Homo sapiens: one gene and its partners. The protein of the gene in region 4 purifies or fractionates together with the protein of the main gene of each other region. This does not show direct contact. Each region holds a gene or a part of one and is shown on either strand. Other genes may lie near its edges. The genes, in order: REXO4, ZNF668, RRP12 and PRR11.

Region 1 (7,284 bases), on a different chromosome or scaffold from region 4:
CTGCTGCAAGCTGGGCCTTGCTCTAAGATGGTTGCAGTTCAGGGTAACCTGCAGCCCAGTCCTGCACACCAGACAGCTCTCCGGATGTGCACGCCCACCCCCTTAGAGGAGGCCTAAGCCATCTAATCTGGAGAAGGGACACTGGACCAGAAACCCACAGACGGGGGTTCACAAGGAATGCCAGGACCTCGGCTGACTCCCTCTCCGGGGTCCCCGCTCCCATCTGACAGATGAGAGGCTGTGCCAAAGACATCGTGGTTCTGGCTCAACTCTCCACCTACTCTGTGCCTGCGCCTGATGAGGAGAGTCGCAGAAGCAGGCTGCACGGCACCAGATCTCAGCATCATCACAAACGGCCTGGCAATCCCCTTCATCTCCTGGAAGACTCACTTCACATGCTCCAAACCACTCTTTTACACCCACAGAGCCGCACAAGCTGATGACCAGCAGGGGGATTCACCTTGTCTTTCCACCCCTCAAAGTGCAGCCTCTCTCCTCCTCTGCGATCAGGGAGGACACACCTACACTTCCTGCCAGGCCCTGGCTCTGGATCCCTTCCCAGCTCTCTCCTCCTGCATCGTTAGTTTCTGCCCCTCTGCTAGAGCCATTCATTCATTCCTTCAGCCAACAAATGTTTCACTGAGCCCCTGAAACAGGCCAGGCTCTGTGCTAGACACCAGGAAAGCAGCCCCAAGCCAGGCAGACAGCAGCCTCGGCCTCTCACAGCTTAAATTCTAGGGAAGAGAGCCAGACAGCAAAGTTGCTAGACAGACACATGTTGTATATGTAGTATGTTCAAAGGTGGTAAGTGTTATGGAGAAAAATACAGCAGAATAAAGGAATGGGGGACTGGAGGGAAGGGTGTGCTTTCATGCAGGAAGGTAAGGAGGCTGTTGGAGAAGGGGGCATGCTTAGATATCGAGATCCTGGTACCTGGCTCACTCCATCAGCATGAATGACTCTCCTGTCTCTTTTTGGTTTTTGTTTGTTTTTTGAGACAGAGTCTTGCTGTGTCACCCAGGCTGGAGTGCAGTGGCACGATCTCGGCTCACTGCAACCTCCGCCACCCAGGTTCAAGTGATTCTCCTGCCTCAGCCTCCCTTGTGGCTGGGATTACAGGCACCCGCCATCACGCCTGGCTAGTTTTTGTATTTTTAGTAGAGGTGGGGTTTCGCCATGTTGGCCAAGCTGGTCTCAAACTCCTGACCTCAGGTGAGCTGACTGCCTCGGCCTCCCAAAGTGCTGGGATTACAGGCATGAGCCACCAAGCCCAGACACTCTGGTGTCTCTTGATTACAATCAACAACCTTCCCTTGACCCACACTGTCCTCCTGCCATAGCCCTGTTTCTGGCTGTCTTTAAGAACTTAGAAACATTATTTTCAGTGGCTATCTCCACTTCCTTGCCTTCAATTCCCACATACCATTGAAATTGATCTTTAAAAGGTCACCAATAACTTTGTGAACCCTGAAAGAGCCAATCCTTCTTGATGGATCCCAAGTTACTAACTGGGCCTAAATTCAAAGTAGGACCTAGCAGCCATTTGCTGACTAGGGTCACACACACATTCTGCGTTCCTGGAAAGCCCCCACTCTCACTTAACTCTGGGATGGTTTCACAGCTATCTGTTCCTGTTTATGCCGCCAGAATCAACCCATCGACTGTGACCTGCATCGACCAATCTGAACTCAGCAAGTATTAACCAATCAGAACTAAGCAAGTGTGCCTTCCTCATTTGCATAAGTGGACCAAAGTGGGAACCTGGGCAGGAAGTTCTCTACAAAAGACGACCTCTTTCTTTGTTCTCTTTGTTCCCTGGAATGCACCTTTGTACAGAAGGCTGCATTGCCCTGGTTTACAAACTGCTGGAACAAAGTTTTTTTCCTTTTTTAAAAAGAAAACCTGGGCCAGGTGTGGTGGCTCACGCCTTTAATCCCAGCACTTTGGGAGGCCGAGGCAGGTGGATCACGAGGCACGCGGATCATGAGGTCAGGAGTTCGAGATCAGCCTGGCCAGCATAGTGAAACCCCGTCTCTTTTCAAAAATACAAAAATTAGGCTAGGTGCGGTGGCTCACGCCTGTAATCCCAACACTTTGGGAGGCTGAGGCGAGAGGATCACCTGATGTCTGGAGATCCATACCAGCCTGGCCAACATGGAGAAACCCCATCTCTACTAAAAGTACAAAATTAGCCGGGCGTGGTGGCACATGCCTGTAATCCCAGCTACTCGGGAGGCTGAGGCAGAAGAATCACTTGAACCCGGGAGGTGGAGGTTGCGGTGAGCCGAGATTGCGCCATTGCACTCCAGCCTGGGCGACAAGAGCATAACTTCGTCTCAAAAAAAAAAAAAAAATTAGCTGGGCATGGTGGCGTGCACCTGTAGTTCCAGCTACCCAGGAGGCTGAGGCAGGAGAATCGCTTGAACCCGGGAGGTGGAGATTGTGGTGAGCCGATATCACGCCACTGCACTCCAGCCTGGGCAGCAGAGCAAGACTCCGTCTCAAAACAAACAAAAAAAAAGAAAACCCTTTTCGGTGGACTTGCTGACAATCTCAGTGCCATATCTGGTTCCCATCTCTCTGTCCTCGTCCTTCTCAGCCTCTCAGCAGCATCTGATGTGGTTTATTCTCCCCCTGGATTCTCTGATGCCACTCACATCCGCTTCTCCTCCCACTGCACTGACTGCTCCCCCTCAGCCTCCTCTGCTGCTTCGCCCCTGGAGAGCCCCCAGCACCTGCTATCTGGTCTTAACCCTTCACTCCCTATATTGGTACTCTCTCTTTGGATGAACTAACCCAGGTTCATGTTTCAACACTAATTATGTGCTGACGATTTCCAAATTACATCTCCAGCACTGACCCTTCCCTAAGCTTAGGAATCTTATATCCTGCTGCTGATTAGACGTCTCTCCTTGGTGACTGACGGCCCGTTCAAACTCAGCAAGTGTGAAAAGGAGCTCATGGCTCCACCCCCATACTTCACCCTGCTCCCCGCAGACATTTATTGAGATGATAAATGGCCACACCCAATTGCTCAGACCAAAATCCTAGGAGCCTCACTTCCCTGTTACTCCATCAACCTCTGCCTGTTACACACGCACATCAAATCTACCCACTCCCGGCCGGGCACGGTGGCTCACACCTGTAATCCCAGCGCTTTGGGAGGCCGAGGCGGATGGATCACTGGAGGTCAGGAGTTCAAGACAGCCTGGCCAACGTGGCGAAACCCCAGGTCTACTAAAAATACAAAAATTGGCAGAGAGTGGTGGCGTGCACCTATAGTCCCAGCTACTCAGGAGGCTGAGGCAGGAGAATCGCTTGAACCCAGGCGGCAGAAGTAAGGGAGGAGACCACCCCTCATATTGTCTTATGCCCAATTTCTGCTTCCAAATAAAGAAGTAAAAACTAAAAGGCAGAAATAAAATCCACAGGCAGACAGCCCGGCGCCGCGCCCTGGGCCTGGTTAAAGATCAATCCTTGACCTAACCGGTTATGTTATCTATAGATTTCAGACATTGTATGGAAAAGCATTGTGAAAATCCCTGTCCTGTTCTGTTGCGTTCTGATTACCGGTGCATGCAGCCCCCAGTCACGTACCCCCTGCTTGCTCAATCGATCACGACCCTCTCACACAGACCCCCTTAGGGTTGTAAGCCCTTAAAAGGGACAGGAATTGCTCACTCAGAGAGCTCGGTTTTTGGAGACGTGAGTCTGCCGATGCTCCCCACTAAATAAAGCCCTTTCCTTCTACAATTCGGTGTCTGAGGGGTTCTTGTCTGCGGCTCGTCCTGCTACAGAGTGAACTGGCAGGAACTCCTCCCGGTGCCTGGGCCTCAGTTTCCCCACTGTACGTGGAAGATGAGCCGCTGTGAGGCTGAGCAAGGAGCAGCCCAAGGCGGGAAAGGCTCGAGAGTCCAGGACGCAGGCGAGCGACCTAGCCCGGCTCTCACTAGCCCCACCGCCCAGTGCCCCCAGCTCAGCTGCCCTACCAGGTGCTACACACACAGCGGCCCCCCAGTTCCCTTCCGGCGTTCGCATCTCTCATCCCCATCCCGGATCTTGGGGAGGTCCTCGGCTTGCCCCAGTCAAACTCGAGGTCGATGACCCCGGATGCCGCTGGCTAAGGCGGCGGCCCAAGTCCCGTGCGGGTGAACCGCCCAGGCTGCGCGGAACCAGAGGCAGGGATCCGGTTTCCAGCCGGTTGTGGAGAGACGAGCGCTTCCGGGGACTGGAGCGTGCGTGCTGAGGTATGCGCAACGCGTGCGGGGTCTCTTCCGGAGTCTTTTCCTGGACGGGGTCCCTGCGGTGGGTGTGTTTCGGCCTGGCCTGGGCAGGCGCTTGTGCTGCCAGGGCGCCGGGCCCGGGGAGGCCGGGGTCTCGGGTGGCCGCCGGCCCAGGCGCTGGACGGCAGCAGGATGGGGAAGGCGAAGGTCCCCGCCTCCAAGCGCGCCCCGAGCAGCCCCGTGGCTAAGCCGGGTCCTGTCAAGACGCTCACTCGGAAGAAAAACAAGAAGAAAAAAAGGTTTTGGAAAAGCAAGGCGCGGGAAGTAAGCAAGAAGCCAGCAAGCGGCCCCGGTGCTGTGGTGCGACCTCCAAAGGCACCAGAAGACTTTTCTCAAAACTGGAAGGCGCTGCAAGAGGTGAGGCTTGAGGGGGCCCGGGCGGAGCGCTGCGCAGCTCATTCCCGCAGAACGCGACGGAGGGAAAGACTTGGGTAGCCCCAAAAGACCTGTAAAGGCAGATTTGAATCGAAATCTTGTAAACAGCTTTTCACAAGAAAGGTGGCCTGTTGAGGGAGGTCTCGAACTTGTTTGCTTGAAAGAAATTGATGAAAGAATTATTTCAAGTACAAAAAAGCAAAGATAAACCCTTGTACCTTTTGCATAATGAACTAACTAGAATGGATTTTACAAAGAGAAATTTAGCTTAAAATCCCGAAACCAGGCCGGGCGCGGGGCCTCACGCCTGTGATCCCAGCACTTTGGGAGGCCGAGGCGGGCAGATCCCCTGAGGTCAAGAGTTCAAGACCAGCCCGGCCAACATGGTGAAACCCCGTGTCTACTAAAAAAGTACAAAAAATATTAGCCGGGCGTGATGGCGCGCGCCGGTAGTCGCAGCTACTCGGGGAGCCTGAGGCAGAAGAATCGCTTGAACCCGGGAGGCAGAGGCAGTAGTAAGCCGAAATCGCGCCACTGCACTCCAGCCTGGGCGACAGAGCGAGACTCCATCTCAAACAACAACAACGAAAGAACACACTGGTCTGTGTAGCAAGACAGGGAGAAAGAAGATTCCTGTGTAGAAGTGAAAAGCAGATAGCAGACATGTGATGGGGTTCTAGCGACACTTACGGTCTTGAAGTAAATACTAATTGAGCTCCTAAAAATGTGCACTCTGCCATGTGCTCTATGCCATGCGTGTTGCAATCCCCACAATAAGACTGTGAGGTGGACACTTCCATCATCGCTATTGTACAGATGAGGAAATAGGCTGGAAAAGTTTAAATAGATCATCTAAGATTGCGGCTGGGAACCAGGTGGCTGACTCTGGAGTCCATGCTTTTAAGGCTGTGTTGTACCTGCTGTCTCCCTAGTGACCTGCACTTCTGTAGAGGTTGCCTGCTCTCTCCTAGACACTCTTCCACGTGCGTCACTCATACATTCTTACCACATCCCTTGGAGCTCCCTTGGAGCTACCTCCTGTTAGGATCATAGCTCACTGCTGCCTGGGCTCCAGTGATTCTCCTGCCTCAGCCTCCCGAGTAGCCCACACGTGTAATCCCAGCACTTTGGGAGGCCCAGGCAGGAGGATCACTTGAGCTCAGGAGTTCAAGTCCAGCCTGGGCAACATGGTGAGATTCCATCTCTAAATAAAAGTAAAAAGTAGTTTTTTTAAAAAAGAAATGTGATCCCCAGTGGTGGAGATGGGGCCCATAGGAGGTATTGGGTCATGGGGGTAGATCCCTCATGAATGACTTGGTGCCCTCCCCTCAGTAACGAGTAAGTTCTCACTCTGCTGGTTCATTTGAGAGCTGGTTGTTTAAAAAGAGCCTAGCACCTTTTTTGCTTGCTCTCTCACCACGCAACACACCTGCTCCCCCTTCACCTTACACCATGATGGGAAGCTTCCTTCGGCCTCACCAGAAGCAGATGCTGGCACCATGCTTCTTGTACAACCTGCAAAACCATGAGCTACATAAACGTTTTTTCTTTATAAATTACCAAACACAGGTATTCCTTTATAGCAGTGCACAATGAACTAATACAGATGGGGTTTCACTTTGTTGCCCAGGCTGGTCTTCAACTCCTGACCTCAAGCAATCCTCCCACCTCAGCCTCCCCGAGCGCTTCTTGAACCTCCTAATACTCTGCACAGTATCTCAGTGCAGACATTCCTGTCTTAACACACAGGACCAGTCAAATTCCCGTGGGCAGCCCCAGGGTTCTGTGGGATTTCTTGAACACCAACTCTTCTTCCTTCTCCCAAGAAAGAAAAGCAAAATAAGTGAATGGAAGGGATGTGTGCTATAGGGAAACTTTGGAGTGTTTTCTAATTCATCCAAGAAAGTCAGCCCTTCAGTTCTTTACCTATCACAGAACAGGTAAGTAGCACCCGCCTCATCATCGCACTGTGGTGGCGCCCACTCCCACTGGGGATTTGAACACAGGGAGGAAGCTGGGCTCTAAGACTACAGGAGCCTCTGCTTGGGTGACAGCCAAGGTGTGTGGCTGCTAGCAGTTCTTCAGCCACTCCAGTTTGACAGAAGCTTTTCTTTTCATTTATGACACCCCCCACCTTCCTGAGATCTTCACAGCAGTAGCAAACCAGGGAATCTTGTAAAAAAAAAAAAAGCGATTTCTGTGTAGCAGGATGTTGGCCCAAGCTGTGAGGGAAGTTAACTCCAAAATTCTTTCTAGATAAGCTGAAAAGGGAAGTGGTCTGTGGTGTCCAGCCACTCAACAGGTACCCAAGGTGTAGAATGAGTTTGACATTTTGTATGCATGAAGGAGCAGGTGCAAAATGCATTATAATAAGATAAGCAAAGAAACAGCATTTCACCACAAGTGACCCATGAGAATGAAAAAGAGCTTTTTCCAAACCGTTTGAAAATGAATTTCAGTGATGCGGATGGGAATTGTATAGATGTGTTTGGTGTATATGTGTGTATATACATACACACGTAAGTTTTTTCAATCTGCTGTGTGTAATTTCCAAATTCAAATGCAGCATGTATTTTATTTTGGGTCCCAGTGGCTGCTGAAACAAAAATCTCAGGCCCCAGAAAAG
Region 2 (3,929 bases), on a different chromosome or scaffold from region 4:
GTGTCAGGCTCCGCGGCCAAGCCTAGGCCCTATGCGTGTCCGCTATGCCCCAAGGCCTACAAGACGGCACCCGAGCTGCGCAGCCACGGGCGCAGCCACACGGGGGAGAAGCCCTTTCCGTGCCCCGAGTGCGGCCGCCGCTTCATGCAGCCCGTGTGCCTGCGCGTGCACCTGGCCTCGCACGCTGGCGAACTGCCCTTCCGCTGTGCGCACTGCCCGAAGGCCTATGGCGCGCTCTCCAAGCTCAAGATCCACCAGCGTGGCCACACAGGCGAGCGGCCTTACGCCTGCGCCGACTGCGGCAAGAGCTTTGCTGACCCTTCAGTGTTCCGCAAGCACCGGCGTACTCACGCTGGCCTGCGGCCCTACAGCTGTGAGCGTTGCGGCAAAGCCTATGCGGAGCTCAAGGACCTCCGCAACCATGAGCGGTGAGGGTGCCTTCCGGGGCAGGGCGCCTTCCGGGGCAGGGCGACAGCGTTGCTGCAGCCAATGGGGCCTGGGTTTGAGTCTCAGGGTAAAGTGAGCCAATGGGAAGGTGGGCATGGCAGATCCAAGGGGAGGGGCTAGGCATGTGGGAGAAATTGGTGCCCCTGATTGGGCAGAGGTGGCAACCACCTTGAGGTTGATCTCTGAGAATGGGATTGGGTCAGATTGGCCTCCGTTGTAGGCCAGCTGGAAAGGGGGCGGGGTTTGGAGTTGGGCAGTTCTGAGGGTCTTTTGTGGAGACCAGGAGGTGTGAGTGGGGCCTGGTTTGTCTAGGTCATTTTTTTTTTTCTTTTTCTCAGCCTCTACATTAATGACATGTTTCTAGGCTGGGCACAATAGCTCACGCCTATAATTCCAGCACTTTGGGAGGCTGAGGCAGGAGGATTGCTTGAGCCCAAGAGTTCAAGACCAGCCTGGGCAACACAGCAAGCCTCGTCTCTATAAAAATAAAAAAATTACCCGAGCGTGGGGATGTACACTTCTAGTCCCGGGTACTTGGGAGGATAAGGTGGGAGGATGGCCTGAGCCTGGGAGGTCGAGGCTGCAGTGAGCTATGGTCAGGCCACTGCATTCCAGCCTGGGGAACAGGAAAAAAAAGGCGGAGGACACGTATCTTGGTTTTCTGTTTTGTTTTGTTTTGTTTTTGTTTGTTTGTTTTTTGAGACGGAGTTTTGATCTTGTTGCCCAGGCTAGAGTGCAATGGCGCGATCTCGGCTCACCGCAACCTCCGCCTCCCGGGTTCAAGCGATTCTCCTGCCTCAGCCTTCCGAGTAGCTGGGATTACAGGCATGCGCCACCATGCCCGGCTAATTTTGTATTTTTAGTAGAGACGGGGTTTCTCCGTTTTGGTCACACTGGTCTTGAACTCCTGACCTCAGGTGATCCGCCCGCCTCGGCCTCCCAAAGTGCTGGGATTACAGGCGTGAGCCACCGCGCCTGGCCATGTCTTGGTCTTTTTTTTTTTTCTTTTTCTTTTTTTTTTTTTTTTTTTGAGACGGAGTCTCGCTCTGCCGCCCAGGCTGGAGTGCAGTGGCAAGATCTCGGCTCACTGCAAGCTCCGCCTCCCGGGTTCACGCCATTCTCCTGCCTCAGCCTCCCGAGTAGCTGGGACTACATGCACCCACCACCACGCCTGGCTAATTTTTTATAGTTTTAGTAGAGACGGGGTTTCACCGTGTTAGCCGGGATGGTCTCGATCTCCTGACCTCGGCCTCCCAAAGTGCTGGAATTACAGGCGTGAGCCACCGCGCCCGGCCCATATCTTGGTCTTTAATGTGCAGAGACAGGTCTTTGGAATAGAGACACCCAGCCAGCCTGAAGGCTTCTTCCTCTGGGGTGCAGCCATGTGGCTCTTAGGGGATTAAGCCTAGGCCCCCACGAACGTTTGGGGAGCCCCTAAAGTACAGCCCAGACAGGCAGTGGGGTCACGTTATGGGTCTGTCGCCTTCATGCCAAGTCCTCCACACCCCCGCAGGTCCCACACCGGCGAGCGCCCCTTCCTCTGCTCCGAGTGCGGGAAGAGCTTCTCCCGCTCATCCTCGCTCACGTGCCACCAGCGCATCCACGCGGCACAGAAGCCCTACCGCTGCCCGGCCTGCGGCAAGGGCTTCACGCAGCTCAGTTCCTACCAGAGCCACGAGCGCACGCACTCGGGGGAGAAGCCCTTCCTGTGCCCGCGCTGCGGCCGCATGTTCTCCGACCCCTCGAGCTTCCGTCGCCACCAGCGCGCCCATGAAGGGGTGAAGCCATACCACTGCGAGAAGTGCGGCAAGGACTTCCGGCAGCCGGCGGACCTGGCCATGCACCGGCGTGTGCACACAGGCGACCGGCCGTTCAAGTGCCTGCAATGTGACAAGACGTTCGTGGCGTCCTGGGACCTCAAGCGGCACGCGCTGGTGCACTCTGGCCAGCGGCCCTTCCGCTGTGAGGAGTGCGGGCGAGCCTTCGCCGAGCGTGCCAGCCTCACGAAGCATAGCCGGGTGCACTCGGGGGAGCGCCCCTTCCACTGTAACGCATGTGGGAAATCCTTTGTGGTGTCGTCGAGCCTGAGGAAGCACGAGCGGACCCATCGAAGCAGTGAGGCCGCGGGTGTGCCCCCTGCACAGGAGCTGGTGGTGGGGTTGGCGCTGCCTGTGGGCGTGGCAGGTGAGAGTTCAGCCGCCCCGGCAGCAGGGGCGGGGCTGGGGGACCCTCCAGCAGGGCTGCTAGGGCTGCCCCCGGAGTCAGGTGGTGTGATGGCCACACAGTGGCAGGTGGTGGGCATGACGGTGGAGCATGTGGAATGCCAAGATGCTGGTGTCCGGGAGGCTCCTGGTCCCTTGGAAGGGGCAGGCGAGGCGGGGGGTGAGGAGGCTGACGAGAAGCCCCCCCAGTTTGTGTGCCGAGAGTGCAAGGAGACCTTCTCCACAATGACGCTGCTGCGTCGGCACGAGCGCTCACACCCGGAGCTCCGGCCCTTCCCCTGCACCCAGTGCGGCAAGAGCTTCTCTGACCGGGCTGGGCTGCGCAAACACAGCCGCACTCACAGCTCAGTGCGCCCCTACACCTGCCCCCATTGTCCCAAGGCCTTCTTGAGTGCCAGCGACTTGCGCAAGCATGAACGCACCCACCCTGTGCCCATGGGGACCCCCACACCCCTGGAGCCCCTGGTGGCTTTGCTAGGAATGCCTGAAGAGGGGCCGGCCTGAAGCCCATGACCCCCCAGCACCACACTCCGGGAGCCCAGCCCCCATCGGGGGCTTCCTGTACCTCCTTTTGCCTGGCTCTGCTCTTTAGACTCCAGATCCCTACCCCTCAGCAACTAGCTCCCCTGTCGGCCAGCTAAGAGAGCTGGGACAGTGGAGGCTGGCAGAAGCTGAGACGTGACTGTCTAGGAGTAACACTCATTAAAGCTTTCATTTTGGCACCAGGTCATCTTCTGTGTTCTGGTTGGGAGTGAATGGGTGGGAGTTTGGGCATCAGGTAAGGTTCAGTGGAGACCCCTGGATCCACAGATTTGAAACTAGAAGGGTCTTTGGATGCAGTTTCCCAAAGTATGTTTCAGGATGTCTAGTGACAAAAGGTTTCATGGGCAGGTAAGAAAGGAAATTCCCTGTGCCCTTCTTGGGATTCTTGGTGATCAAAACTTGGTGATCAAAAGTGGGCTGGGGTGGCCCTGGAGGAGCAGTCCCTCTGGCAGCTGAAGCTGGCATCTCCAGGCCCACTGCCCCTTTGTTGTGAGGGCCTGGGACTTAGGAATCTGCCCACAAAAGGGGTATTGTTCATTAAAATCTACCCATTTCTTCATAGAATATACGTCTTCAATTGCCTGGTGGTGGTGGCTCACACCTGTAATCCCAGCACTTTGGGAGGCTGAGGCAGGCAGATCACCTGAGGTCAACAGTTCTGAGACCAGCCTAGTCAACATGGTGAAACCCTGTCTCTATTAAAATTACAAAAATTAG
Region 3 (7,035 bases), on a different chromosome or scaffold from region 4:
CTAAGCCCAGGAATTCAACCTCTTTGCCACCATTACCCCTGTTGACCTGGCAGTGCTGCCTGCCAGGATGGAAACAGCCTCTCAGCTGCCCCACCTGAACCAACAAGGGTGAAGTGGGCCCAACCCATCACCCAACACCTGTCAGTCTCAAGCTCAGTGGAACATTTCCATTCTGGAGCAGTTTCTTCCCTCTCTGCCCTTCCAGACTATGCCCCAGCCCATCCAGCCTTCCTGGGCACCACCCGTAGGTGACAGAGCCTACATCAGGGTATAGTGATATCGGTGGGGAAGCGGCAGACTCTGGGGTCCCATCTTGGCTTCAGCCTAACCTTTTAAAGCCTCAATTCCTGATCTGTAAAGTGGGGTTATAAATAGACCACCTGGTGGAGTCATTGGGACAGTTTGGTAAGATTGGGCGTGTAAAGTGCATTAGCATAGTGCCTGAAGTGTTACAGACTTCCCCCACATCCCCGTTTTCATTGGCGTCATGTTTGTCAATGTCTGCCCATATGCCTTGCCAAGTGTCCATCTGCCCAGTGTGGCCCGAGGAGGAGTTTGTTATTAGAGCATTGTGACAGCGCAGAATTCTGTTTGAAGAGCTGAGTACATATCCAGAGTCTTGGGTCAGAGAGTAGCTGAGGACCTGAGCAGCCTCTGATGCGGGAAGCCCCTCTGGGATGCCCTTGAGGAAAAGCAGTGGGGCTTCTGCTGAAAACCCTCCTGCCCCTCTCTGCGCCCAGGCAACCACTCCTGTGGGACAGCTTCACCTACTGGGAGTCCTTCCTCTGCTTGGTCTGACATGGGCCCCTCCGAGAGGCCACCCTCAGGCCAGTCTAGTCTCCCTCTCCAGGTGATGGCAGTCGTCTGCCAAACGTGTGTCTGGGCCCAGACTGCCTGGGCTCAAGTCTTTGTTTCTGTGTACAGTGCTTGCCACTTAGTGATGCAAAGTAAGCCATTGTGACTTGATTATTCACTTTTCCTGGAAATCTTTTTCCATTCAAAGCCTCCTGGGTTCCTTAAGCACATCTTCACATGTGGCTTTGCAGATCCTCGGCAGCCTACTCCTCTCCCTGGCCGGGGAGAACCGACCACGGCTTTCTAAGGATGTCCCCCACTGCCCCGGGCAGAGCGGGACTGAGCAGATGCCTTGTCTCCAGGCACTGAGAGGGCCCCAGGGCAGTTGCATTCTGTGGCTGGCTCCTGCCACTGAGACCCCCAGAGGGTTTCTTGCATGGCACTTAGTTCTAACTCTTTTTTTTTTTTTTTTTTTGAGATGAAGTCTCACTTTTTCGCCAGGCTGGAGTGTAGTGGCGCAATCTCGGCTCACTGCAACCTCCCCCTCCCAGGTTCAAGTGATTCTCCTGCCTCAGCCTCCTGAGTAGCTGGGATTACAGGTGCATGCTACCACGCCCAGCTAATTTTTGTATTTTTAGTGGAGATGGGGTTTCATCATGTTGGTCAGGCTGGTCTCGAACTCCTGACCTCGTGATCCACCCACCTCAGCCTCCCAAAGTGCCAGGATTACAGGCGTGAGCCACCGGGCCCGGCCAAGTTCTAACTCCTCGGCCAACCATTGTGGAAGCATGAAGTGCTGGGGTTCAAGTAGCTGCCTCCATTCAGGGCCAGCAGGCTGGGCTGTTGGCCAAGCACCAGCTGAACCAAGAGCCAGCTCAGCCATCATCCCCTACATTGCAGTCGGAGTCAGCTTCCTCCCGGTTCCTGTTTCTCCACTAGGAGCCCACTCAGCTGGGCTTCGGCCAGTGGACCTGGAGTCCCCCGTCTCCCAGGCACACCCTGTGTGTGCTGCAGCCTGTTCGCTCTGCCCAGGCCGATCCCTTTACCTGGCATACCTTTCCCCTGGTTGGCCTCTGGATCCCCTGGGTAGCTGGAGCCCTGGGAATCTGCAGTTTCTAGAGGTTTCTGGGGCACAGTGGCACAGACCACAGTGCAGGGACCAGCCTTGCCAGCTGGGGCCACCTCTGTTTGCCTGCCCTCCCTGCACAGCACGCCTCTGCCTGGCCTGGTTGTTGGTTCTAGGCTCACATCTGATGGGCTGGGGCCGCTGTCGGGCTCTCCCTCCTTCCCTTGGACTGCCTAACACAGTGCCAGGCGCACAGTAGGTGCTCTGTCACTTCCTGTTGAATATAATTGACGAGCTGACGTGTCTTACTGTCCATGATCATACCTGCTGGGATGGTAGCATTGTTGAGGATCAGTGATGACTGGCTTGAGCAGGGGTCTCCCACCCGCCTGAGAGCCCGTGGAGCACAGGAACTAGATCTTGTGCCCTGTGTCCCCAGGGCCTGGCACTTAGTAGGGGATCAGTAAGTGAGTGATTAATAGGGAGAGTGGGGTGGGGTTTGTGTGAAGCAAAGAACTGGTAAAGCTATTCTCTCTGAAGAGGCCAGGGACCTCATTTTCCCCATTAGGAAGGCTGGGTAAGCTGATGTCAGAAGCCCTCTGGGCAATTGCAGGCCTGGGTGGGGCCCAGAGTGGAAAGGAAGAGCAGGAACGGCCGCCACCAGCCCGGCAGTCAGGACATGGCCAGAGCTTCTCTTCTGCACTGCCTGGCTTTGTGATCTTGGACAGTTCCTTGCCCTCTCTGGGCCTTAGTTTCCCCATCTGTAAGTGAGAGGTGGGGTGCTTAGCAGAGGGCCTCTCCTGCTTGATGCAGGGTACTCTGCTGTTACTGTTGGCATTCCCGAGGGTGGGCACATCCCCTGGTTCACTCACTACCCACCTATTCTCTCTCTATAGAAAAAGCACCAGAAGCTCAAGCACCAGAAAGAGGCTGAGGAGGAGGAGCTGGAGATACCCCCTCAGTACCAAGGTGAGGCTTCCACTCCTCTCTCCTGGGACACATGGATCCCTGTCACCTGCATTAGGGAGGGGAGTCACAGGAAGGGGTGGCAGGGCCATGAGGGTGCACAGCCTGGTTGCACTCACTTGGCACCAACAGAGGTTGGCTGATATGACACTCAAGATGGGCCTGGAGTCTAAGGGGCCCTGGGGGTGTGAGAGAGCCTATGGGTTAGGAGATCTGTGCATGGAACCACCAGCCTTCTGAGGAGCCCTGAGCCACAGCTCCTTCCCACCCGCCCAGGCCTCCCAAGAGGCTTGAGTCTGTCCCTTCTGCGAGCTGCTTGCCTCTCTTGGTCACCCTAAGAGCACCAACCGAGTCAGGCTGGGTTTAGAGAAGCCACTTGGCCGGTGCCAGGGCTGGGAACTGGGAAGGTTGGTATTGGGTCTGGCCAGAGGGTTCCCCTCTATTTCTATCTCTGGGCCCACCAGCTGTTGCCCTCCTAGAGCAGCTGCTAGAAGTGCCAAGGTGGCTTCACCTCTGCTTCCTTCCTCCCAGGGTAGCCTTGCAGGACCCCTGCCCCCAAGCCCTTGCAGCAGAGCCCTTGCTTTGCATCTGGAGGTCCAGGGGCTCCTGTGGGAAGCCTCTGATTCCAGTAGCTGGTGTGTCCTCAGCCCTAGAGCATCATAACGCAGCTGCACAACCTCATGGCTCTTCCGCCTGTGGCACCCATGAGCCAGGGCCAGCTCACCTACTGTGCCCTGGGATGGAGTGATGCTGAGGCAGGAGTACCTGCCAATTGATGAGGCAGAGACCTGGGGTCAGGGCTGCTTGCCCAACCTCTGCTTAGCTGTTTGACCTTGGCCTGGTTACACTGTCTGTCTCTGAGCTTCTAGTTTCTCATCTGCAAAAACATGAGGAATGGGGGTGGTTCGTGTTGGTCGTCTCAGAGAGTCCTCCTGAGCTGGCATGGTAGGATTCCATCCACAACTTGTCGTTGAATGTTGAAGTCCAGGCTGGAGAAGACAGCTGACCTTGGGCAAGGATCTTGATCTCTCTAAGCCACAGTGTTCACATCTGTTACAATGGGTTAAATAGCTACCTGCTATCTCAGTGTTTGTGTGAAACCCAAATGAGATAAGAAGGGAAAGCCTAAAATGGCTTCTCTTACAGATGAGGTTAAGAGGCTTGCCTGAGGTTGGAGCTGTAAGTGGCAGAGCTGGGAGTTGAACCTGGCTGGCTGGCTGGCTGAATTCTGTCTGACTTTGGAGAATATGGGTTATTTTTTGTTAGTGTGTTAGCGGAGAATATATGTGTTCCCAGAGGTCTCTGGTAAGCTGTAAGGCTTCTGGGTCAGTCTGAGGAGCCCAGTGATCTAACTGTCAAATCACCAGACAGTCCCTCCTCGAGGAAGGTCTTTGTCCTGGTTTGATAGGGGACAGAGCCAAGTTCCTGGCCTTCACTCATCTGCTCCCTTGCAGCTCTCTCAGAGAGGGTGCCCATTGCCTTTCTGGAGGGGGCTGCCCTGGCTTTGCCTGACTCATGGTCCTGTGTTCTCCCCGTAGCTGGAGGCTCTGGCATTCATCGCCCTGTGGCCAAGAAGGCTATGCCTGGGGCTGAATACAAGGCCAAGGTAAGTGCTGCATGTAGGGCATGGGGTCTCCTGGCACTGGACAGGTGCCAGGGAGGGGCAAGGAGGAGCTGTGCCCATCACTGTCCTGAGAGGCACCTTCCTGGAACTCAACTGAGGCCAGGAAAGAAGAAGGGGTTCAGATGCTAAGACCTTGTGGCATCTGAAATGGGGGACCTTATTGAATGGCCTTCCAAGGATACAGGAGCTCTTTGGCACCACCTAAGGCAGAGGATGAAGGGAGGTTATGGGGCCTGTCAAGTCTAGGGCAGGGACAGAAGGGGAACCCCACCCTCCTAGCTGACTCTGTTTCTCTGGGCAAGCAGAAAGCAAAAGGTGATGTGAAGAAGAAAGGCCGGCCGGATCCCTATGCCTACATCCCCCTCAACAGAAGCAAGCTCAACCGCAGGTATGACGCTGTGCCAGGCAGGCTGGGGGCTGGAGGATGGGTGGGGATGAGGGAGCAGAGTGCTCTAAAGAAGGGAAGGCCTTATTAAACTCTCAGCTCAATTTGAGTCTCTTCCAGCTTTTTTTTTTAACATGCACCTATATCATGTAGCTGGTACCTACCTGTATTACTGACTTGAACTGCTTCTTTATTTTTTTATTTTTTTGAGACAGAGTCTTGCTCTGTCGCCAGGCTGGAGTGCAGTGGTGCGATCTTGGCTCACTGCAATCTCTGCCTCCCAGGTTCAAGCTAGTCTTCTGCCTCAGCCTCCCGAGTAGCTAGGACTACAGGCGCGTGCCACCATGCCCAGCTAATTTTTGTATTTTTAGTAGAGATGGGGTTTCACCGCGTTGGCTGGGATGGTCTCGATCTCTTGACCTCATGATCTGCATGCCTCAGCCTCCCAAAGTGCTGGGATCACAAGCACGAGCCACCGTGCCCCGCCCTGAACTGCTTCTTTAAACATGATATTATGTCATACAGATGTTTTCTGGTATTTACATACTCTACATAGTCATCTTTTTTTTTTTTTTTTGAGACGGAGTCTCGCTGTGTCACCCATGCTGGAGTGAGTGCAGTGGCACGATCTCGGCTTACTGCAAGCTCTGCCTCCCGGGTTCACGCCATACTCCTGCCTCAGCCTCCGGAGTAGCTGGGACTACAGGCACCCGCCACCACACCCGGCTAATTTTTTTGTATTTTTAGTAGAGACGGGGTTTCACTGTGTTACCCAGGATGGTCTTGATCCCCTGACCTTGTGATCTGCCCACCTCGGCCTCCCAAAGTGCTGGGATTACAGGCATGAGCCACCACGCCCAGCCATAGTCATCATTTTTAATAGCTTTGTATAATTTGCTTTTCTAATCCCTTTATTGGTAGGAAATTAGAGTTGTTTCCGACTTTGGCCCTTAAATTGGGTTATGTGTAGGACTGCTTTGGAAACTAATGTTACTAGGGAAATGGTGTTGTAAAGTTCTAGCTTCTGCGGGTTGTAAGTTACCTTTCAATGGAGGGATGGGTGGGCAGAGGGAGCTTTGACCTTCTCTGGACATACATTAGAGGAAAAATGGAAGGGAGGCCTGTTTCCAGGGGGATAATTGTGCCAAAGTGGAATGTCCAGGTCAGGACATGAGCCGTGTGGAAGCTGGAACCACGTGAGGTCTGCCTAGTTCATGTGCTGGCCACCACCTGGAGGCCCCCTTCTCATCCCTGCTGGCGCTGGGGGTGAGCCATCATTTGGCAACAGGAGGGGGCCTCCTATTCTCAGCCAGATGTGACCCTTCCGTTCCTTGGCCCTGCAGGAAGAAGATGAAGCTGCAGGGACAGTTCAAAGGCCTGGTGAAGGCTGCCCGGCGAGGTTCCCAGGTGGGACACAAAAACCGCAGAAAGGATCGTCGACCCTGAGGCCCAGGGCCCCTGGGCTGCCCTGTGGTCCAGTCTGAGGCCCTTTCAGCCCCCAGGCTGCCTTGCCACCAGCTCCAGGTGCTCAAGATTCTGGCAGAGCCTGGACTCAGGATGACTTGGAACTAGGGCTTGGCTCTCAGAAGTCCTGGATTTTGGAAACTCCAAATGGAATCACCCTTCAGAGACATCCCTGGTGCCTGGAGATGGGAATGTGGCCTCAGTGCCTCTGAGTAGGTGCCATGAGGCACCTTTGCTTTCTGCCCAGAGTGGCCATGAGCACCAGAACAGATGATCTCCATTTCCGCCAGCTGCCTGTAGCCACGTGGCATCCTGCCTGTGGTCTGGGTGAGATTTACTGTGACCAGATGTAGAATAAATGTGTCTCATCCTGCATTTTTTTTCTAGAAACTGTTTCATAGTCTGCCCCCTCCAGGGGTAAGAACAGTGTGCAGTTGTTGGCAGCAGTGGCCTGACCTCTTCCTGTCTAACTCCTTACATCCAGTCCAGGGCATATCATAAGGCTTTGCCCATAGGACAGGCTTTGGAACTTGCCCGGGAGCACCCACCTGTGTCAGGAGGGGCAGCGAATGCCCCAGGGCTGGTGTCGGGAGCTGCAGTTCAGCACCAGGGACTGCCCCAGCTGTCCTGGGCACAAGTCTCTCCAGCATCTTTGTTCATTGATTCAACAAAGTATTTGCTGAGCCCCTCTAAGTGCCCAGCATAGCCTTGTTCATTCACCTCCGTGTCTTCCCA
Region 4 (6,499 bases):
CTCGATCTCCTGACCTTGTGATCCACCTGCCTCGGCCTCCCAAAGTGCTGGGATTACAGGCGTGAGCCACCGGGCCCAGCCTGTTTTTTTAAAATTTATAGACGAAGTCTCACTATATCTCCCAGGCTGGTCTCAAACTCCTGGGCTCAAGTGATCCTCTTGTCTCGGCCTCCCAAAGTGCTGGGATTACAGGCGTGAGCCACCGTCCTCGGCCCACAACTATCTTTTTTTTTTTTAAATTTATTTTTTATTTCAATACGTTTTTGGGGAACAGAAAGTGTTTGGTTACACAAATTAGTTCTTTAGTGGTGATTTCTGAGATTTTGGCACACCCATCACCCAGCCAGTGTACACTGTTCCCAATGTATAGTCTTTTATCCCTCACCCCACCCCACCCTTTCCCCCAAGTCCCCAAAGTCCACTGTATCATTCTTATGCCTTTGCATCCTCATAGCTTAGCTCCCGGACTTATTTTTTTAATTTAAATATTTCTTTGGGCAGTAGGAAGTCCACAACTATAATACAGTGGCTTCACCATATAATCACTGTTCTTCCATCCTTAATGTGTGGCTTTTATCCTCTTAATACAAAATGCCTACATTTCCTGAAGCCTCATGTCCACATTCTAGGCAAGAGAAGGAGAAAGGCAAATGTTAATTAAGCTATGCCTCATTTCTTCAAAGAAGCCCTATCCAGGAACTTCTGATTGCATCAGGGAAACTGGGAAAAGTGGTTTTTACAATCTGAATGCAGTGTTGCCATGCAAAAATTCTGGGTTCTGTTGAGAAAGGAGAGTTGTACTTATCACAGGAATATAATTGATATTATAATTGGGACTTTTTTTTTTTATAGCTGGCTCACCCTAGAAGCCCAACTCCAACTCTGCCACTTTCTACAAGCAGCTTTGATGAACAAAACTGATGCCAACTCTGCCTCACTCCATGAGATGATCCATAACAAATACAGATAAAAACACCCAGCTGGGTGCAGTGGCTCACACCTGTAATCCCAGCACTTTGGGAGGCTGAGGCAGGTGGATCACCTGAGGTCAGGAGTTTGAGACCAGCCTGGCCAACATGGTGAAACTCCTTCCCCACTAAAAATACAGAAATTAGCTGGGCATAGTGGCGGGTGCCTGTAATCCCAGCTATGCGGGAGGCTAAGGCAGGAGAATTGCTTGAACCCAAGAGGCAGAGGTTGCAGTGAGCCAAGATCGCGTCATTGCACTCCAGCCTGAGCAACAAGAGCAAAACAAAAACAAACAAACAAACAAAAAAAACCCACCCAAATCCTTTTTTTTAATGTAGTAGGGTTTATATAGATATACTAATATAATTGCATTTGGAGAATTAGAGTATGTATGGAGCCCACACATACTGTGATATAAAGTGTATATACAGATATTTGGATATTTTCTAGTTTGCATGATGATTAAGAGAACCAGATGGGAAAATACAATCTCCAAAGTGATGTTTATCCTGGAATTACCCAATTTAGATTAGAGAGGTTGTTCAAATTTAACTAGATAACTCTAGTTTGTACTGTATAGGTGCAGTTATGACAGTAAAAAAATAGCCTCTTGGCTCATACCTGTAATCCCACCACTTTGGGAGGCCAAGGTGGGAGGATTGCTTGAGCCCAGGAATTCAAGACTAGCCTGGGCAACATAATACAGGGAGACCCCGTTTCTATTAAAAATACAAAAATCAGCCAGCTGTGGTGACACATGCCTATAGTCCCAGCTACTTAGGAAGCTGAGAAGGGAGGATCACTTGAGGCTGTAGTGCACTATAATTATGCCTGTGAATAGCCACTCTACTCCAGCCTGGGCAACATAGCAAGACCCCATCTCTAAAAATTAAAAAAAAAATTTAAATTAGAATATCATTTCTAGCATCTTAGGTAGGTACTTATATCTGGCTTACAGAAGTCTAAGGTATTCCTTATTTTTATATCTGCTGTCCACATTTATACAGCTACATAAAAATTTTATGACAACTTCAACATGAACCTTATATTTTCGACAATGCCTTGCCAAGGAATCTCTGAAGTCCATAGCAGGTCACTGTGAGACCTAGTTCCCTGTTGTCACTGACCTATGTAATCAAAGACAGTAATACAGCCTGGGAAACATAGCGAGACCCTGTCTCTATCAAAAATTTAAAATTACCCAGGCATGGTGACGCACACCTGTAGTCTAAGTGTCCAAGTTACTTGTGAAGCTGAGGTGGGAGGATCACTTGAGCCCAAGAGTTTGAAGCTATGGTGAGCTATGATTGTTCCACTATACTCCAGCATTGGCAACAGAGCAAGAACTCATCTCTAAAAAGTAAAAAGCAACTCCCCAGAAAGACTGTATTTCTACAGATAAATATTGCATTGAGATGCCAAATAGAGTGTTGTTGTAAAGTCATCAGACTAGAAAGCAGACCTGGGGACAGTGTTTACCACCTAAGAGGCAGTCCTGTTTTTGAGACCCACATCTATATATAGAGATTTTTGTTTGTTTGTTTGTTTGTTTTGTTTTGTTTTGAGATGAAGTCTCACTCTGTCACCCAGGCTGGAGTGCAGTGGCGCAATCTTGGCTCACTGCAACCTCCACCTCCCAGGTTCAAGCAATTCTCCTGCCTCAGCCTCCTGAGTAGCTGGGATTACAGGTGCGCACTGCCACGCCTGACTAATTTTTGTATTTCTAGTAAAGATGGGGTTTCACTATGTTGGCCAGGCTGGTCTTGAACTCCTCACCTCAGGTGATCCACCCATCTCAGCCTCCCAAAGTGCTGAGATTACAGGCGTGAGCCACCACGCCCGGCCAGAGATCCACATCTATATTTATAACACATTTATGGATGAAAATTAAACAGGTGTCCGGGTGCGGTTACTCATGCCTGTAATCCGAGCACTTGTGGAGGCCGAGGCAGGCGGATTACTTGAGGTCAGGACTTCGAAACCAGCCTGGCCAACATGGTGAAATCCCATCTCTACTAAAAATACAAAATTAGCCAGGTGTGGTGTCACGCACCTGTAGTCCCAGTTACTTGAACCTGGGAGGCAGAGGTTGCAGTGAGCCGAGATTGCAACACTGCCACTCCAGCCTGGGTGACAGAGCAAGAGACCCTGTCTCAAAAAAAAAAAAAAAAAATTAAATGGGTAGTGACGTTAAGAGATATATATCAGCTTCTAGTAAAAGTTTTTTTTTTTAAACCTGCTAGCTACATTTACATTATGTAAAAATAAAGGGAATAATCACTGAGAATAAAGCAGTTGAGTATTTATAACAATAATATTTTATGGGGCGCTTATAATGTTTATAATATTGTAAACCACTGTGTACTCTATTCATTTAATGCTAAATGACTTGACCATTCTTGTGGGATAAGAGATCATTAAAAAAATGCTAGGGCCGGGCACCATGGCTCACGCCTGTAATCCCAGGACTTTAGGAGGCCAAGGCAGGTGGATGACTTGAGCTCAGGAGTTTGAGACCAGCCTGGGCAACATGATGAAAACTCCGTCTCTACCAAAAATCAAAAAAATTAGCCAGGTGTGATGTTGTGTGCCTGTAGTCCCAGCTACTTGTGAGGCTGAGGTGGGAGGATGGTTTGGGCCCCGGAGGTAGAGGTTGCAGTGAGCTGAGATTGTGCCACTGTATTCCATCCTGGGCAACAGAGCCAGACCCTGCCTCAAAAAAAAAAAAAAAAAAAAAAAAGGCCTGGCACAGTGGCTCACGCCTGTAATCCCAGCACTTTGGGAGGCTGAGGCGGGCAAAACACTTGAGGTCAGACGTTTGAGACCAGCCTGGCCAACATGGTGAAACCCCGTCTCTACCAAAAATAAAAATAAAAATTATCCAGGCGTGGTGGCATGTGCCTATAGCCCCAGCTACTCAGGAAGCTAAAGCACGAGAATTATGTGCATCCTGGAGGTGAAGGTTGCAGTGAGCCAAGATCACACCACTCCACTCCAGTCTGGACAACAGAGTGAGACCCTGTGTCAAAAAAAAAAAAAAGAAAGAAAGAAAGAAAAAATGCTTTATGGCCCAGTGCAGTGGCTCACACCTATAATCCTAGCACTTTGGGAGGCTAAGGCAGGAGGATTGCTTGAGGCCAAGAGTTCAAAACAAGCCTGGGCAACATTGCAAGACCCCAACTCTACAAAAAACGAAAAATTAGCCGGGAGCGGTGATGTGTGCCTGTAGTCCCAGCTACTCAGGAGACTGAGGTGGGAGAATCACTTGAGCCTGGGAGGTTGAGGCTGCAGTGAGCTGTGTTTATACCACTGCACTCCAGCCTGCTGGGTAACAGAGCAAGACTCCATCTCAAAAAGAAAAGAAAAAATGCTTTGCTACATAATGAGGCCAGGCAAAAAAAAAAAAGTCCTGTGGAAATCATATAGACAAACATTTGCAAAGCTGCTACTGCCATTGTACCAGTGTTAAACTGTGTTCTACCTTGCATCTTTTACTGATTTTTATGACAGATTTTATATTGTAACCATTCGAGAACTCTGTAAGTGCTATGGCTTCCTTAAACTACGATTTATCATATGCTCCCGGTGTTTACTTTGAGACTGAATGGCAACCAGAGAATGTAAACAACCAAGGTGCATCTGGTTATGTTTTAAAATAAAGATTAATAAAAGTTTTGGTTTTTCTCTTTCTAACCTTCTTTTTAAACTAGAAATATAATACCTATAGAAAAGTAAATGTTGGCCGGGTGCGGTGGCTCATGCCTATAATCCCAGCACTTTGGGAGGCCGAGGCAGGCAGATCACCTGAGGTCAAGAGTTCGAGACCAGTCTGGCCAACATGGTGAAACCCTGTCTCTACTAAAAATACAAAAATTAGCCGGGCATAGTGGCAGACACCTGTAATCCCAGCTACTGGGAAGGCTGAGCCAGAATGGCTTGAACCTGGGAGGCAGAGGTTGCAGTGAGCCGAGATCGCCCCATTGCACTCCAGCTTGAGCAACAAGAGCGAAACTGTCTCAAAAAAAAAAAAAAAGTATATGTTAAGTATAGAAAAATATATAAATTAAAAAATTATAGGCTTGGGGGCCAGGCACAGTGGCTCACACCTGTAATCCCAGCACTTTGGGAGGCCGAGGTGGGTGTATCACTTGAGGTCAGGAGTTTGAGACCAGCCTGGCCAACATGGTGAAACCCCGTCTCTACCAAAAAAAATATATAAAAATTATCTGGGTGTGGTGGCATGTGCCTATAGTCTCAGCTTCTCAGAAGACTGAGGCGTGAGAATCACTTGAACGATGGAAGTGGAGGTTGCAGTGAGCTGAGATCACACTACTGCACTACAGTCTGGGCAACAGAGTGAGACCTTGTCTCAAAAAAAAAAGAAAGAAAAAGAAAAATGCTTTATGGCCCAGTGCAGTGGCTCACACCTATAATCCTAGCACTTTGGGAGGCTAAGGCAGGAGGTTCGCTTGAGGCCAAGAGTTCAAAACAAGCCTGGGCAACACTGCAAGACCCCAACTCTACAAAAAACGAAAAATTAGCCGGGAGCGGTGATGTGTGCCTGTAGTCCCAGCTACTCAGGAGACTGAGGTGGAAGAATCACTTGAGCCCGGGAGGTTGAGGCTGCAGTGAGCTGTGTTTATACCACTGCACTCCAGCCTGCTGGGTAACAGAGCAAGACTCCATCTCAAAAAGAAAAGAAAAAATGCTTTGCTACATAATGAGGCCAGGCAAAAAAAAAAAGTCCTGTGGAAATCATATAGACAAACATTTGCAAAGCTGCTACTGCCATTGTACCAGTGTTAAAATGTGTTCTACCTTGCATCTTTTACTGATTTTTATGACAGATTTTATATTGTAACCATTTGAGAACTCTGTAAGTGCTATGGCTTCCTTAAACTACGATTTATCATATGCTCCCAGTGTTTACTTTGAGACTGAATGGCAACCAGAGAATGTAAACAACCAAGGTGCATCTGGTTATGTTTTAAAATAAAGATTAATAAAAGTTTTGGTTTTTCTCTTTCTAACCTTCTTTTTAAACTAGAAATATAATACCTATAGAAAAGTAAATGTTGGCCGGGTGCGGTGGCTCATGCCTATAATCCCAGCACTTTGGGAGGCCGAGGCAGGCAGATCACCTGAGGTCAAGAGTTCGAGACCAGTCTGGCCAACATGGTGAAACCCTGTCTCTACTAAAAATACAAAAATTAGCCGGGCATAGTGGCAGACACCTGTAATCCCAGCTACTGGGAAGGCTGAGCCAGAATGGCTTGAACCTGGGAGGCAAAGGTTGCAGTGAGCCGAGATCGCCCCATTGTACTCCAGCTTGAGCAACAAGAGCGAAACTGTCTCAAAAAAAAAAAAAGTATATGTTAAGTATAGAAAAATATATAAATTAAAAAATTATAGGCTTGGGGGCCAGGCACAGTGGCTCACACCTGTAATCCCAGCACTTTGGGAGGCTGAGGTGGGAGGATCACTTGAGGCCAAGAGTTTGAAACCAGTATGGGCAACATTGCAAGACCCT

What was found.
Region 1: the proteins of PRR11 (region 4) and REXO4 purify together in Homo sapiens (affinity purification with mass spectrometry; 3 studies listed by BioGRID and IntAct, with this or other methods). This does not show direct contact.
Region 2: the proteins of PRR11 (region 4) and ZNF668 purify together in Homo sapiens (affinity purification with mass spectrometry; 3 studies listed by BioGRID and IntAct, with this or other methods). This does not show direct contact.
Region 3: the proteins of PRR11 (region 4) and RRP12 purify together in Homo sapiens (affinity purification with mass spectrometry; 3 studies listed by BioGRID and IntAct, with this or other methods). This does not show direct contact.

The regions. Positions count from the first base shown.
Region 1 is NC_000009.12:133,414,976-133,422,259, reverse strand, and holds the start of REXO4 (RNA exonuclease 4), read left to right. Parts: upstream 1-4,249; 5' UTR 4,250-4,415; coding exon 4,416-4,640; exon of another isoform or gene 4,641-6,598; intron 6,599-7,248; coding exon 7,249-7,284.
Region 2 is NC_000016.10:31,060,312-31,064,240, reverse strand, and holds the end of ZNF668 (zinc finger protein 668), read left to right. Parts: coding exon 1-428; intron 429-1,960; coding exon 1,961-3,173; 3' UTR 3,174-3,394; downstream 3,395-3,929. UniProt on the Homo sapiens protein: May be involved in transcriptional regulation. May play a role in DNA repair process.
Region 3 is NC_000010.11:97,356,341-97,363,375, reverse strand, and holds the end of RRP12 (RRP12-like protein), read left to right. Parts: intron 1-2,757; coding exon 2,758-2,830; intron 2,831-4,365; coding exon 4,366-4,433; intron 4,434-4,756; coding exon 4,757-4,839; intron 4,840-6,179; coding exon 6,180-6,282; 3' UTR 6,283-6,675; downstream 6,676-7,035.
Region 4 is NC_000017.11:59,200,711-59,207,209, forward strand, and holds the end of PRR11 (proline-rich protein 11), read left to right. Parts: intron 1-852; coding exon 853-921; 3' UTR 922-5,999; downstream 6,000-6,499. UniProt on the Homo sapiens protein: Plays a critical role in cell cycle progression.